2 separate regions of the Homo sapiens genome follow, and region 2 is reported to be linked to region 1. The links are microRNA targets in miRTarBase. Many come from high-throughput screens and were not tested one by one. Region 1 holds a microRNA gene; the other region holds the end of a gene's coding sequence.

Region 1 (7,743 bases):
GGACGTTTTTGTCCGTTTGTTTTGAGACAGGGTCTTGCTCTGTCACCCAGCCTGGAGTGCAGTGGTACAAACATGGCTCACTGCAGCCTCTACCTCCTGGGATCAAGCAATCCTCCAGCTTCAGCCTCCTGAGTAGCTGAGATGACAGCTGCTCACCGCCATGTCCAGCAAATTTTTTTATTTTTTGTAAAGATACGATTTTACCATGTTGGTCAGGCTGGTCTTGAACTCTTGGGCTCACGCGATCCACCTGCCTCAGCTCCTAAAGTGCTGGGATTACAGGTCTGAGCCATGGTGTCCGGCCACACTCATGGATTTAATTGCCCTTGGAATCAACACCGTGCAGGAAAGGAGTAGGATTGAGCAGAAAAAGTTGAACTAAATGTAGTTACAGCAAATGCCTCAGCTTCCGGATCCTAAGGGAGCTCTGGTGCCAGGAGAGCCCTTCAGAGCAGCCCCACCCTGAGCCCTGCATCTGCCAGTCAGTGCAGACGGACCTGGTGAGAGGCAGCTTTCTTCAGCTGAAGGCAACTCCTGGAAAGGGATTTAGCTGATAGGTGTTGACAAGTAATGCGCCCAGCAGCTGAGGAAATGAGCACCTTAGTCCTGAAGAGTGGTGTGCTCTTTGGTATGCTGGGATGGTTGGTTGTGCCAGTGGAGATGGGGGTGGTGGGCAGAATGAAGGGAATACTACTGTAAAAGCTTTTTATTTTTTATTTATATTTATTCATTTATTTATTTTTTAAGACAAGGTCTAACTCTGATGCCCGGGCTGGAGTGCTGGAATGCAATGACACCATCACAGCTCACTGTAGCCTTGACCTCCTGGGCTCAAGCGATCCTCCCACTTCAGCTTCCCAAGTAACTGGAACCACAGGCACATGCCACCATGCCCAGCTAATTAAAAAAAAAAATTTTGTAGAGATGAGGTTTCGCCATGTTGCCCAGGGTGGTCTGGAACTCCTGGGCTCAAGTGATCCACCCACCTTGGCCTCCCAAAGTGCTGGGATGACAGGCATGAGCCACGGCTCCCAGCTTGGAACAAAACTCTTCGAAGAAAAAATTGGCAGAGCTTGTTGCCTGACCAAAAAACAGAGGCTGAATGAGAGAGATGCATTTAAAACAATACGAAACACTAAGGGTTCCCTGAATACTGTTGGACAGTGCAAAATGGGGGAAGTTAGGATACAAATCTAATTCTGTTCTACTGTAAGGCTCATGCCTTTTCACTAGACTAGTGCTGGTCAAACTGGTGTTCCATGGGCTACATTCAGACAGCAGACGTATTTTGTTTGGCTACACAGCATTTAAAAAATGTAAATTGGCTGCCACTATGTAAAAATTGGAAGAGTTTATATGTAAGTTCAGATCTCTAGCTTCTCTTGAGTAACTAGAAGATCTAGCAACACTGGGTCAACATTCCTGCATGGCAGTAACTGGAGTTGAGTGACAGATACTCTTTAAATGGAGAGAGTATCTCTTATCTGGATAAATGGAGGTGGGTATATGCTTCTTAATTCACCACAGTCTCTATGCATTACCTTCTTTGGCATTTTTTTTTTGAGATGGAGTCACTCTGTCGCCCAGGCTGGATTGCAGCAGCACAATCTAGGCTCACTGAAACCTCAGCCTCCTGGGTTCAAGCAATTCTCCTGCCTCAGTCACCCTAGTAAGTAGTTGGGATTACAGCCATGTGCCACCATGCCCGGCTTTTTTTTTTTTTTTTTTTTTTTTTTAGTAGAGATGGAGTTTCACCACATTGGCCAGGCTGGTCTCAAACTCCTGACCTCAGGTGATCTGCCTGCCTCGGCCTCCCAAAGTGCTGGGATTACAGGCATGAGCCACAGCGTCCAGTCTTCTTTGGCACTTTTGTTTAGCATTCCTGCCATATGTACTATGTATGGTCTAACAAAGTACATAATACATAACAGGCATTTGGGTACTTTTATTTTTATTTATTTTTTAGAGACAGGGTCTTGCTCTGTTGCCTAGGCTGGAGTGCAGTGGCGAGATCACAGCTCACTGCAGCCTTGACCTCTCTAGCTCAAGTGATCCTCCCACCTCAGCCTCCCAAGTTGCTGGGACCACAGATGCACACCACTATGCCTAACTAATTTAAATAATTTTTTTTGGTAGAAGCTGGGATCTCACTATGTTGCCCAGGCTGGTCTGAACTTCTAGGCTCAAGCAATCCTCCCACCTCGGCCTCTAAAAGTGCTGGCATTATAGGTGTGAGCCACCACGACCGGCCCATTTGGACACTTAATACTGGTTCAGCAGAACTGAATGAATTTAATTGGAGAGGAAGTTGGGGTGAAGTCTAGGCCTCTGACTATAATGAGAGGTTTGGCACTGAGGGGAGGCAACAGAACAGGGAGTACAAATTAGGATGAATTAATGACATGCTGGCAGGAGCTTGAGTAAAGGAAGAAGAGCAGAGGGCCAGGGCCTGAAGTTTGGGTGTCTTACCACAGAGCTAAAGAAGAGTGGGCAATGGTAGACTAAACTAGAGAAGAAGAGGAGAGAAAGGCACAGAGGAACTTCAGCAACGGAATGCCAGGGAAGGCAAGGGAGCTGAGGGTTTGGGCAGTTGCATCCAGTGTAGGGAAGAAGATCAGGGAGATAGACAGGCAAAAAGCCATGGCAACAAGGAAGTAGTTAGGGACTTTCAGAGGAAGTATGAGAAAAGGAGAGGAAGGTCATAGGTCTGAAGTTTAGCAGTGCAGTAGGGGGCACTGGAATACTATCTTGGGGGTATGAGTGAGTGCTTTTTCAGGGGTCCTACTTGGGAGAAACATAGATAGACATTCATTTAATATTCATCCATTTCTTTCCAGCATAGTCATCATTCTGACATCATCTAAAAGAAATTAGTATCTGCATTGCATCCTTAAAGAAGAAGGGACAAAAGACATGTCCAAACTGTCTGTCTGTTCTAGTGGAATAAAACATTAATTTAATATGTATTTTGGACAACCACCAACCTAGAGATTGGAAACTTTTCTCAAGGATATATCTCTCTGTATGTGGGCTACTGGCTTTGTGGCTTTTCTGTAGGAAAATTAAAATTCTAGTTTTGTTCTCCCTTATCACCCAGTGTCTGTGTGGCTTAACTGGCTGATTAGCGCGTGCTTGGAATGTGTAAATTCATTTTAACATTGGCCTAGGGGCCTGTGTGGTAGCTCACCCCTGTCATCCCAGCACTTTGGGAGGCCAAGGCAGGGGGATCACTTGAGGCCAGGAGTTCCAGACCAGCCTGGGCAACATAGCAAGACTGTGTCTCTACCAAAAAAAAAAAAAAAAAAAAAATTAGCCAAAGCAGGGTGACACTCACCTGTAGTCCCAGCTATTCAGGAGCTTGAGGTGGGAGGATCACTTCGGCCCAGGAGTCTGAGGCTGGAGTGAGCTATGATTGAGCCACTGCACTCCACTGCACAGAGTCAGACCTTGTCTCTGAAAAACAAAAACATTTGCCTAGGTAAAATGTATCGAGGAAGACAAATTTTAAAATTACTCATTCCAGGCCAGGTGCGGTGGCTCACACCTGTAATCCCAGTACTTTGGGAGGCTGAGGTGGGCGGATCATGAGGTCAGGAGTTCAAGACCAGCCTGGCCAATATGGTGAAACACCGTCTCTACTAAAAATACAAAAATTAGCCGGCTGTGGTGGCGCATGCCTGTAGTCCCAGCTACTCGGGAGGCTGAGGCAGAAGAATCACTTCAACCGGGAGGCGGAGGTTGCAGTGAGCCGAGATCGCGCCTCTGCACTCCAGCCTGGGTGACAGGGTGAGACTCTGTCTTAAAAAAAAAAAAAAAAAATTAGTCATTCCAAAGTCCAATGTCAGACATAGATTATCCGTTGTTTTGGATGTAATCCTCTTCCTGGAAAACTGGCACAACCCAATTACACATGAAATCCTTTCAACTCTGGTATTGGAGGTATAGGGAAGGACTTTGTTTTAGGAGACCCATAGTCTACCTCTATTGTTCTAGGAGTTAAACCACGTTGGTTTACATCCTGACTTTGCCACCTGTCAACTCAGACCTTGGGCAAATCAAAGGTCTGAGGGAGGAGTGCAGGCTCCCAGCGTTCCCACGGGGGTGGGGACGTGACGTATTCATCAGTTCATGAAGTTAATGATATGTATTGAAAAGGTTTGTTCAAGGATTTAAATAAGACGATGAATATATTGAATTAATAATGAATGCAAGGCCTTAAAGGTGTTTTGAGGGTGGTGAAACTTGAATCTCTCATCAACTGTGCAATAGTTATATTAACTTGGATGGCTATGAGTTTTGCAGAGGAAAGCTGGGCTTAAATCCCAATGCTAGACCTGGTGGCTAGACCTTGATTGCCACCGGGTCTAGCATTGGGATTTAAGCGACCTCTAAAAAAAAAAAATCACGGAATCTCTCTTTGGCCTTCCTTTTTTGTTTCTCAGCAGTCTACCAAGCTACGAAGAACCTGAAAATCGGAGGTCGTGTACCTTATTTTTTCTGAGAGCTTAAGCTGAGAGCACAGCCTCCCCAGGAGATTAGCGGCAGAGATCCGCGCGCTGGGAGAAAGGCTAGCCCCAGGGCGCCCTAACTTCCAACTCCGGGAGCAATCCAAACCCGGAGGCCGGCGGGGGAGGGGACAGCTGTAGGGGGCGGTGGGGATGGGAGTGGATGCTCCCGGGTCAGCTCTGGCACTCGCCAGCTGAGCCCAGCGCCAGTCTAGGTGAGCCCCACGGCGGTGAGGGACGCTCGCCAGACGGCCCAGAGGAGTTAGATGACGTCACCTCCAGGAGGACTCGCTTTTTCATTAATGAAACCGGCCGGCGCGGGCGCATGCGCGGCAGGCCGCCTTCCCTCTCGCTTCCCCCTCCCCTTTCCCAGCCGCGCTCTCAATCTCTAGCTCGCTCGCGCTCCCTCTCCCCGGGCCGTGGAAAGGATCCCACTTCCGGTGGGGTGTCATGGCGGCGTCTCGGACTGTGATGGCTGTGGGGAGACGGCGCTAGTGGGGAGAGCGACCAAGAGGCCCCCTCCCCTCCCCGGGTCCCCTTCCCCTATCCCCCTCCCCCCAGCCTCCTTGCCAACGCCCCCTTTCCCTCTCCCCCTCCCGCTCGGCGCTGACCCCCCATCCCCACCCCCGTGGGAACACTGGGAGCCTGCACTCCACAGACCCTCTCCTTGCCTCTTCCCTCACCTCAGCCTCCGCTCCCCGCCCTCTTCCCGGCCCAGGGCGCCGGCCCACCCTTCCCTCCGCCGCCCCCCGGCCGCGGGGAGGACATGGCCGCGCACAGGCCGGTGGAATGGGTCCAGGCCGTGGTCAGCCGCTTCGACGAGCAGGTAACCGGCCCGTGGCGGGCGGGAGGTGGGAGCGGAGTGGGGGTGGGGACAGAGTAGGTGAGGGGAGGTAGGAGCGGCCGCCTCCCCCGCGGCTGCCTCAGGCTCTGGAGGAAAGGAAGGGAAGGGAAGAGAAGGGAAGGGGGGATAAGTGGGGGTGGCCAAGGCGGGAGGTGAGGGGTAGGAGGGGACAGCTGGGAGCTTGGGCACCCTTTCCCTCCTAAGTCGGGGGGTGGGGCCTTGTCCCTGACCAGCCTCCGACCCTCCATCCCCTTTATCCCAGCCCTTCCGCTTGGAAATGGGGATGAGTGACCTGGGGGCGCCTTTAGGGGCGCGCCATCTGGATTTAATAATTACCCCCTTACTTTTGTTTTTGAGCAGAGGTGGGTAACGTTTAGGGGTTCTCTCTTCCTCTTCCCTCCGTGACCCTCCTAACTGGGGACGAGCGAACCCTAAGGCCTGTCTTATATACCCTCAATAGGAGAACGATAACATTCCGCCCCTCCCCCAGTTTCTTCAGCTTCCTCTCCTGGAGGGGGAAGAGCAGAAGAAAGCAAGGAAGGCACAGGTTTTCTTACTTTCTGCTCCATCGTCTCATCCTGCCCCGAGAGCTTCAAGTGCACACTCACTGCACATCTTTGTGATGCCCTACAACGTCGTCCCCCATATCCTGATGACACAGACTGCCTTTTTTTTTTATTGCCGTTTGCAGTGGAAACCGTGGTTCTGAAATATCTTCCCCTTCCTTGATAATTGCAGTCTCTTCCCCCCCCCCTTTTTTTTTTGCCAGCGGTCTGAGGATGTGATGCATTCTCGAGTGAGAATGTTGGGGAGTAAAGGGGAGAAGGGTGAAAGGAAAGTGAGAAACTGCTTCAGAGCCACCGACAACAGAGCAAAGCCAGCTGGGATGTGGTCCTGGAGCGGATCATTCTGCTAGTGTTTGTGGTTGTTTTTGACTCTCTCCTGGTTGACAAGAGAACTTTCATTGAGAATATTTGGGATGAAAAAAAAGTTTTGTAGCTTGAGGAGGTGACTTTTTATCGCCTGAGTTTCACACAATAAATCCTGGGGCTGATTAGAATAAATGCACACATAGCCTTTTGTCAGTGGAAATTGGTTTAACTTTGTGTTGCTGTAGGTAGTTGGGGATGGTTTAAGGGATGCTTTCTGCAGCTGTGGGTGCAGTGGGCTTCCTGTGATGGGGGAATTGTTTAAGATTGAGTCAACCTATTTTGTTTACTGGATATAATGGTAAAACATTATGGGAGCTGAAGGGGTGGGGGAAGAGCTCTTCTGTTATTTGATGCATAAACATTTCTTTACGGGACTCAGCGTTTCAGACCTACCTGGAAAATATCTTGGAATAGACAGAGGAAGTTGAGAAGAAGCTATGTAGATAAAATAGAGTTATGAAGCTGTCAGAGACTTGAAGGAATTGTTTTATCCATTCGTATGCTTCCAGACCCAAAGGCATCTAAACTAAACTACTAATCCATCTGAAGTATAATGTTACTGCATATAAAAGATTACATTATTGATAGAGCGTTAGATTTAAAACTTGGTAGAAAAGACTCTGTAATTTTAAGAAAGGATTTAAAAGGCACATAGAAGACTTCCAAAGCTGAACCTTGTGGACAGCAGAATCTGGATGTAGGAAATTGAAGGATCCACGCCGCAATTCTCCTTAAATTTTAAAAATTAAAAATTTTTTTCAGTTTTTTCTTAATTTTATTTTTTTACTTCTTACCTGTTCATCTCTAGGCTTATTTGCCATATTGGAAAAAGATACTTAAGAGAGGAATGATTTTGGGCTGGGCGCGGTGGCTCACGCCTGTAATCCCAGCACTTTGGGATGCCAAGGCAGGTGGATCACCTGAGGTCAGGAGTTTGAGACCAGCCTGACCAACATGGAGAAACCTCGTCTCTACTAAAAATACAAAAATTAGCTGGGCATGGTGGCGGGCGCCTGTAATCCCAGCTACTCGGGAGGCTGAGGCAGGAGAATTGCTTGAATCCGGGAGGTGGAGGTTGCAGTGAGCTGAGATCACACCACTGCACTCTAGCCTGGGCGACAGAGCGAGACTCTTGTCTCCAAAAAAAAAAAAAAAAAAAAAGGAGGAATGATTTTGATTATATACCCAGTAAAGCAAGAAAGTGTTTCTCCTTCTGTCCCTAGCTTTAAAAGACCTTAAGGCTTCGTTGTTTGTTATGCATATTGTGGAATCAAACTCACCACCATCTGTTAAAAATTAAGGACATTAGTTTTTAAAACAGCATTTTTCTGCATTCCTTATGTTGTAATTAAGAGAAAGATATATAGGAGAGATTATTCCTCACTTTTTTTTTTTGAGACAAGGTCTTGCTCTGTCGCCCACGCTGGAGTGCAGTAGCTTGATGTCGGTTCATTGCAACCCC
Region 2 (7,743 bases), not on the chromosome of region 1:
AGATCCGCCGGGCCCTGCAGCAGCTGCTTTTCCCAGGCAAGGCCTTCAGCTGGCCACGACATGTGGCCATAGCTCTGATCCTGCTTGTTTTGGTCAATGTCCTTGTCATCTGTGTGCCAACCATCCGGGATATCTTTGGAGTTATCGGTCAGTAAACCTCACCCCAGTCCCATACCCCATCTAATATGGGCCTTGTCCCCAAGTCAGGTTGACTCCTGTCCCTTCTTCTTGTTCTCCAGGGTCCACCTCAGCCCCCAGCCTCATCTTCATCCTCCCCAGCATCTTCTACCTCCGCATTGTACCCTCTGAGGTGGAGCCTTTCTTATCCTGGCCCAAGATCCAGGTAAGCATTCCAGGGCAGAGCTAGGGAGAGAGGGAGCACTCCAAGGAGGGAGTGCTCACTCCAGGATGGCTGGAGGTGAAAGGGACATGCATAGGAGGGGGCTGGGAGAGCATCTGAAAGAATGGTCTGGAAGAATGAAGGTGATTGTCTAGGAAGGGGCAGAGGAGACAGAGCACCAGCAGGGTCCAGGAAGACAGGGAGCACTCAAACAGAGGCTGGCATAGAGGGAGCATTCTCCAGACAGATGGAAAGAGCACTATTGGGAAGAGAGCTGGAAGCACTTTGAAGAAGGAGGATGGAGGAACGTATTCTGTCATGGGTCCTGGGAAGGTGGAAGGACTCGCAGAAAGGGGCTGGCTGTAAGGAAGGAGAGGGCATACAGAGGAGGGTCAGGAATGGATGGAGCACTCTCTGAAGGAGGTGGAAGACTTGAGGAACATTCTCAGAAGGCAACTGGGTGAGGAGTCCCAACCAGCCCCATCTTGTCTCTCTGGCCCACAGGCCCTGTGCTTTGGAGTCCTGGGAGTCCTCTTCATGGCCGTCAGTCTAGGCTTTATGTTTGCCAACTGGGCCACAGGCCAGAGCCGCATGTCTGGACACTGATCAGGCCCTGCTGGCCCAGGTCCCTGTGCGCATGCACATGGAGGGGTCAGGGCCGCTCCCTAGGGTCCCTCCTGCCCAACATGTGGAGGTGGCTGGTTCCCATGAACGTGGTTGTCAGAGGCGGGGGACAGCAGAGGCTGCAGACTGGCCCACTTCCCTCCTCCCCAGGGATGCCAAGCTTGGATCATGGCCCTAATCCCAACCCCAACCCCATGGGAGGAGGAGGAGGAGGAAGAAGAGGAGGAGGAGGAGGAGGAGGAGGAGGAGGAGGAGGCCAGGTCCTGGTGGAGCCTTTGCCCAGCCCAGTCCTCTCTGCCTCCTCCTGGCTGAAGCTGTTTGTCAGGATTACCCTCGGGCTAAAGAGGAAAAATAAAGATGTTGAGCTACCACTCTGGACTCAGCCTTCTGATCTTTCTCTTAGTCTTGCTGGGGGAGCCTGCCGGAGTCCAGGCTGGAGCAAACTGAAGCCCTGCGAGTGGGACTGTGCCTGATCATGCATTCATTCACTTCACTCTTTCAGTAACTTGCTACTCAACTTAATATTTCACCCACTTGGCCAGGAGCAGTGACTCACGCCTGTAATCCCAGCACTTTGGGAGGTTGAGGCCGGCGGATCACTTGAAATCACAAGTTTGAGACCAGCCTGGCCACCATGGCAAAACCCCGTCTCTACTAAAAAATACTAAAATTAACTGGGTGTGGTGGTGCACGCTATAGTCCCAGCTACTTGGGAGGCTAAGGCGGGAGAATCGCTTGAACCCAGGAGGCGGAGGTTGCAGTGAGCCGAGATTGTGCCACTGTACTCCAGCCTGGGCGACAGAGTGAGACTCCATCTCACACACAGAAAAAGACTTCACTCATTCACTCGGTAAACATCTCCTGAAAGCCTACTGGGTGCCAGGCACTATTCTAGGTGCTGGGGATATAGCAGTGAACCAAGCAGACAATAGTGCCCTGGAGTTGATGTTCTGACACACGAGTGGGCAAATCCATCCTGCTGCCTATTTTGGTATGGCCCTTGAACTAAGACTGGCTTTCATATTTCTAAATGATTGAAAAAAGGTGGATCCAGCATGGTGGCTTATGCCTGTAATCACCAGCACTTTGGGAGTCTGAGGCAGGAGGATCATTTGAGAGCAGCCTGGGCAACACGGCAAGACCCCATCTCTACAAAAAATATTAAAAGAAATAGCCGGGTGTGATAGTGCAAGCCTATAGTCCCAGCTACTTGGGAGACTGAGGTGGGAGGATCGCTTCAGCCCGGGAGATTGAGGGTGCAGTGAGCTATGATCACGCCACTGCACTCTAGCCTGAGTGACAGAGTGAGACCCTGTCTCAAAAAGAAAAGGGGCTGGGTGTGGTGGCTCATGCCTGTAATCCTAGCACTTTGGGAGGCCGACGCGGGCAGATCACCTGAGGTAAGGAGTTCTAGACCAGCCTGGCCAACGTGGTGAAACCCCGTTTCTACTAAAAATACAAAAATCAGCCAGGCATGGTGGCACGCGCCTGTAATCCCAGCTACTCAGGAGGCTGAGGCAGGAGAATCGCTTGAACTTGGGAGTCAGAGGTTGCAGTGAGCCAAGATCTCACCACTGCACTCCAGCCTCTGTCTCAAAAAAAAGAAAAGAAAATGAAAAAATATTATTAAAAGAAATAATATTCTGTGACACTTGGAAATTATGTGAAATTCAAATTTCAGTGTCTAAATCATTTACATATCAATTTCAGTGTCTAAATTATTTACATATCATTTACAGTGTCTTCTTCATTTACATATTGTTTGTGGCTTTCTCGTGCAGAGCTGAGGATTTGCAACAGAGACCATATGGCCTGCAAAGCCTGAGCTATTAACTCTCTGGCCCTTTTCAGAAAATGTTAGCTGACCTCTGACCTAACAAAGAGAATAAAAGAGAAATCATTCCTCATAAAGATGGTGCAATGAAGAAAATGAGCGATGTGAGAGTGGTGTGGGGAGGTGGTGGGTGAGGAGGCATTCAGCGAGACTTCACTAAGGAGGGGGCAATGAATTTGGTCCTAGGTTGGCTGAAAGGAGCAAGCCTCATGGTTATTTTGGCAAAGGGTGTTCCAGGCAGAGGGAGCAACAGGTGCAAGGGCCCCGAGGTAGGAACGAGCATGGCTGGTCCAAGCAAGAGCAAGGAGAAGCTAGCATGAGTATGTGAGTGCCATTTTCACCACAGCCTTGTCAACAGCCTGAGCAATGCAACAGATTTTTGTCAACCTCATAGAAAAAATGGTATTGCCATTACACTTCACATACGTGTGTGTGTGTGTGTGTGTGTGTGTGTGTGTGTATTTCTAATTCTTTAATTTTTAATTTTTAACTGTTTTTGAGACAGGGTCTTGCTCTGTCATCCAGGCTGGAGTGCAGTGGTGCCATCACGGCTCACTGAAGCTTTAGCCTCCCAGGCTCAAGCTATCCTCCTGCCTCAGCCTTCTGAGTAGCTGGGACTACAGGCATGCGCCACTATGCCTGGATAATTTTTAAAATTTTCAGTAGAAATGAGATCTCTCTATGTTGCCTAGGCTGGTCTCAAACTCTTGGGCTCAAGTGATCCTCCCACCTTGGCCTCCCAAAGTGCTCGGATTACAGGCATGAGCCGTATTTATGAAATAAGGTTTTTTTTTTTTTTTTTTGGCAGGGTTTCACTGTCATCCAGCCTGGAGTACAGTAGTGAGATCACAGCTCACTGCAACCTCAACTTCCCGGGTTCAAGTGATTCTCTTACCTCAGCCTCCCAAGTAGCTGGGACCACAGGCATATGCCACCACACCCGGCTTATTTTATTTTATTTTATTTTATTTTATTTTATTTTTTAGATGAAGTCTTGCTCTTGTCTCCCAGGCTGGAGTGCAATGGCACGATCTCGGATCAGTGCAACCTCTGTTCCCCGGGTTCAAGTGATTCTCTTGCCTCAGCCTCCCGAGTAGCTGGGACTACAGATGTGTGCCACCACACCTGGCTAATTTTTTGTATTTTTAGTAGAAACGGGGTTTCACCATGTTAGTCAGGATGGTCTCGATCTCCCGACCTCGTGATCCACCTCCCGACCTCGTGATCCGCCTGCCTCAGCCTCCCAAAGTGCTAGGATTACAGGTGTGAGCCACTGCGCCCGGCCTTTTTTGTATTTTTTTGTAGAGACGGGGTCTCACCATGTTGCCCAAGCTGGTCTCGAATTCCTGGGCTCAAGTGATCCACCCATCTCGGCCTCCCAAATTGCTGAGATTATAGGCATGAAGCACCGCACCCAGCCTGAAGGAAGCTTTTAGATGTTTGAGAGACATTTGCTTATCCTCCCAGATAATTTTTACGCATTTATAAGCTACTACACATATATATTATTTCCCTGCTTCTATTTACAAATAGGGCAGTTGTCTGTAGTTGATTAATACTATATGCTCCTTGTTTCACTGTTCTTTATCCCTTACTGCCACTAAACTTAAGCTCAACAAGCCATTCTTTTTGAGAATAACGGTAGCCTGAAATTCCAGCACCTGGCCTTCAAACTGCAAGTCTTGGCTGGGCACGATGACTCATGCTTGTAATCCCAGCACTTTGGGAGGCCAAGGCAAGAGGATGACTTGAGGCCAGGAATTTGAGACCAACCTGGGCAACATAATGAGATCCTGTCCCTAAGTTTTTTTTTTAATTAGCTGGGCATGGTGGTGTGCACCTGCAGTCTCAGCTACTCAGGGAGGCTGGGGTGGGAGAATTGCTTGAACTAAGGAGTTCAAGGCTGCAGTGAGCTGGATTGGACCATTGCACTCCAGCCTGGGCAACAGAGTGAGACCTTGTTTCAAAAACAAAAAAAAAAAACAAAAAAAACAAACAACAACAACAACAACCCCCCCCCACCAGAAACCTCATACCCATTAATAGTAACTCCCCACTCCGCCCAGCCTTTGGGAACCATGAATCTACTTTCTGTCCCTACGGATTTGCCTATTCTTGGCATTCATATAAGTGGAATCATACACTGTGGTCTTTTGTGTCTGGCTTCTTTCACTTAGCATATTTTCAAGGTTTATGCATGCCACAGCATGTATCAGTACTTCATTAAATCTTCCGATCCATGAAAAATGGGCTATCTTTCCATTTATTTAGGTCTTTAATTTCCTTCAGCAATGTTTTGTAGTTTTCAGTGCAGAAGTCTTACACTTCCTTGGGATGCAAGTCCTACTTAGGGGATTTTAGTAGTCTTTTGGTGCTGCTATGATAGAATACCTCAGACTGGGTAATTTGTATAGAACAGACATTTATTTTCTCACAGTTCTGGAGGCTGGAAAGTCCAAGATCAAGGCACCAGCATCTGGTCAGCGCTTTTTGCTGCATTCTCATATGGCAGAAGGCAGAAGGACATGAGAGAAGCAACTCCCTCCATCTCATTTATAAGGACACCTAATCTCATTAGGGAGAACCCCTCATGGCCTAGTCACTTCTTAAAGACCCTATCTCTTAATACTGTCACATTGACAACACCTGAGTTTTGGAGGGGACACATTCAGACCATACTAGGGATTAAAAATAACATCTTAATTTTTAGCAATCTAGTTCAGATTGATACCAACTTAATTTCAATACTATACAAAACATTGCTCTTATATAGCTTTGTCCACTCCCTTTACTGCCACTAAACTTAAGCTCAACAAACCATTCTTTTTGATAATAATGGTAACCTGAAATTCCAGCACCTGGCCTTAAAACTGCAAGTCTTGACTCATGCCTATAATCTGGGCACTTTGGGAGGCTAAGGAGGATGACTTGAGGCCAGGAATTTGAGACCAACCTGGGCAACATAGTGAGATCCTGTCTCTACACAATATTTATTTATTTATTTATTATTTATTTATTTATTTATCTATTTATTTAGAGACAGAGTCTTGCTTTGTTGCTCAGGCTGGAGTGCAATGGCACGATTTTGGCACACTGCAACCTCTGCCTCCCGGGTTCAAGCGATTTTCCTGTTTCAGCCTCCTGAGTAGCTGGGACTACAGGCATGCGCCACCGTGCCCAGCTAATTTTTGTATTTTTAGTAGAGACAGGGTTTCACCATGTTGGCCAGGCTGGTTTCAAACTCCTGACCTCAGGTGATCCGCCTGCCTTGGCCTCCCAAAGTGCTGAGATTACAGGTGTGAGCCACCGCGCCCAGCCCCAATTTTTTTTTTTTAATTAGTCGGGCATGGTGGTTTGCACCTGCAGTCCCAGCTACTCAGGGAGGCTGAGGTGGGAGAGTTGTTTGAACCTAGGAGTTCAGGGCTGCAGTGAGCTGTGATTGCACCACTCACTCCAGCCTGGGCAACAGAGTGAGACCTTGTCTCAAAAAGAAAAAAAAGCAAGTCTTCATATTTAACAGAAAGAACCCCAAAAAGAGATGAGGGCAATGTCCCTACTCCTAGCATCAGCAGAAGATGAATTTTTCATTTTGATTATTACACTTTTAAACTCCAGAAATTTCTATTTGGTTCATTTTTTATATTTCTATGTCTGTATTGATACTCTCTATTTGGTGAGATATTGTTTCTATACTTTAGTTCTTTAGACATAGTTTCTTTGAGGTTTTTGGACGTATTTTAAATAGCTCATTTAAAGTCTTTTTATTAGAAAACCCAGCATCTGGCTGGGCGTGGTGGCTCACACCTGTAATCCCAGCACTTTGGGAGGACAAGGCAGGTGGATCACTTGAGGTCAGGAGTTCAAGACCAGCCTGGCCAATATGGTGAAACCCTGTCTCTACTAAAAATACAAAAAGTAGCCAGGTGTGGTAGTGGGTGCCTGTAGTCCCAACTACTTGGGAGGCTGAGGCAGTAGAATTGCTTGAGTCTGGGAGGCAGAGGTTGCAGTGAGCCGAGATTGCACCACTGCACCCCAGCCGGGGCGACAGAGCAAAACTCTGTCTCAAAATAAATAAATAAATAAAATAAAATACATTAAGAAAAAAGGAAAACCCAACATCTGGGCTTTCTCAGGGATGGTTTCTATAGGTGGTCTTTTTTCTTTATTCTGTGGATGGGTCGTATTTTCTTCTTTCTTTGCAGGTGTCATAATTTTTTATTGAAAACTGGACATTTCAAATAATATAATGTGGCAACTCTGGAAACCAGATTCTGTCCCTTCCCTGGGGTTTCTTGTTGCTGTTTTGTTTGTTTGTTTTCAATGTTTGTTTAGGCTGAGCTCGGTGGCTCATGCCTGTAATCCAAGCACTTTGGGAGGCCAAGGCAGGAGGATCATTTGAGCCTAGGAGTTTGAGACCAGCTCGGGCAACATAGTGAGACCCCGTCTCTTAAAAAAGAAAAAAAAATTGGCCGAGCGCGGTGGCTCACGCCTGTAATCCCAGCACTTTGGGAGGCCGAGGCAGGTGGATCGTGAGGTCAGGAGATTGAGACCATCCTGGCTAACACGGTGAAACCCCGTCTCTACTAAAAATACAAAAAAATTAGCCAGGCGTGGTGGCGGGCCCCTGCAGTCCCAGCTACTCGGGAGGCTGAGACAGGAGAATGGTGTGAACCCGGGAGGCGGAGCTTGCAGTGAGCTGAGATCGCACCACTGCACTCCAGCCTGGGCGACAGAGTGAGACTCCATCTCAAAAAATAAATAAATAAATAAATAAATTAAATTAGCTTGGTGTGGTGGCGCATGCCTATAGTCCCAGCTACTCAGAGGCTGATGCTGGAGGATTGCTTGAGCCTGGGAGATCAAGGCTGCAGTGAGCCGTGTTAGTGCCACTGTACTCCAGCCTGAGAGACAGAGCAAGACCCTGTCTCAAAACACAAGTTTGTCT

What was found. The annotated mature microRNA hsa-miR-4733-3p reads CCACCAGGUCUAGCAUUGGGAU and lies in region 1 at 4,320-4,341, opposite strand. An mRNA with a match to its seed (bases 2 to 7 or 8) in the 3' UTR can be bound and repressed. Matches are read on the target gene's strand: a 7mer-m8 pairs with bases 2 to 8, a 7mer-A1 pairs with bases 2 to 7 and ends in A, and an 8mer does both.
Region 2: miRTarBase lists SLC38A5 as a target of hsa-miR-4733-3p. Seed matches in the 3' UTR shown: 7mer-m8 at 1,227-1,233.

What each region holds. Positions count from the first base shown.
Region 1 is chr17:31,090,039-31,097,781 of GRCh38, forward strand. MIR4733 (microRNA 4733) reads right to left here and starts at 4,387; the gene lies at 4,312-4,387. It overlaps NF1 (neurofibromin 1), which reads left to right and starts at 4,939. Exons shown (of 58, transcript NM_001042492.3): 1 at 4,939-5,331. The coding sequence starts at 5,272. MIR4733HG (MIR4733 host gene) reads right to left here and starts at 5,452. Exons shown (of 4, transcript NR_186435.1): 1 at 5,189-5,452; 2 at 3,335-3,453; 3 at 987-1,080; 4 at 704-897. It overlaps LOC124903974 (a long non-coding RNA gene), which reads left to right and starts at 1,597. Exons shown (of 2, transcript XR_007065704.1): 1 at 1,597-1,669; 2 at 2,838-3,089. RefSeq lists a promoter at 4,519-4,944, cis regulatory regions at 4,552-4,791, 5,018-5,328, an enhancer at 4,932-4,949 and silencers at 5,184-5,253, 5,294-5,343.
Region 2 is chrX:48,452,136-48,459,878 of GRCh38, reverse strand. SLC38A5 (solute carrier family 38 member 5) reads left to right here. Exons shown (of 17, transcript NM_033518.4): 15 at 3-147; 16 at 240-343; 17 at 845-1,335. The coding sequence ends at 946. Among named protein-coding and RNA genes, the nearest start is that of SLC38A5, 14 kb to the left of the region's middle.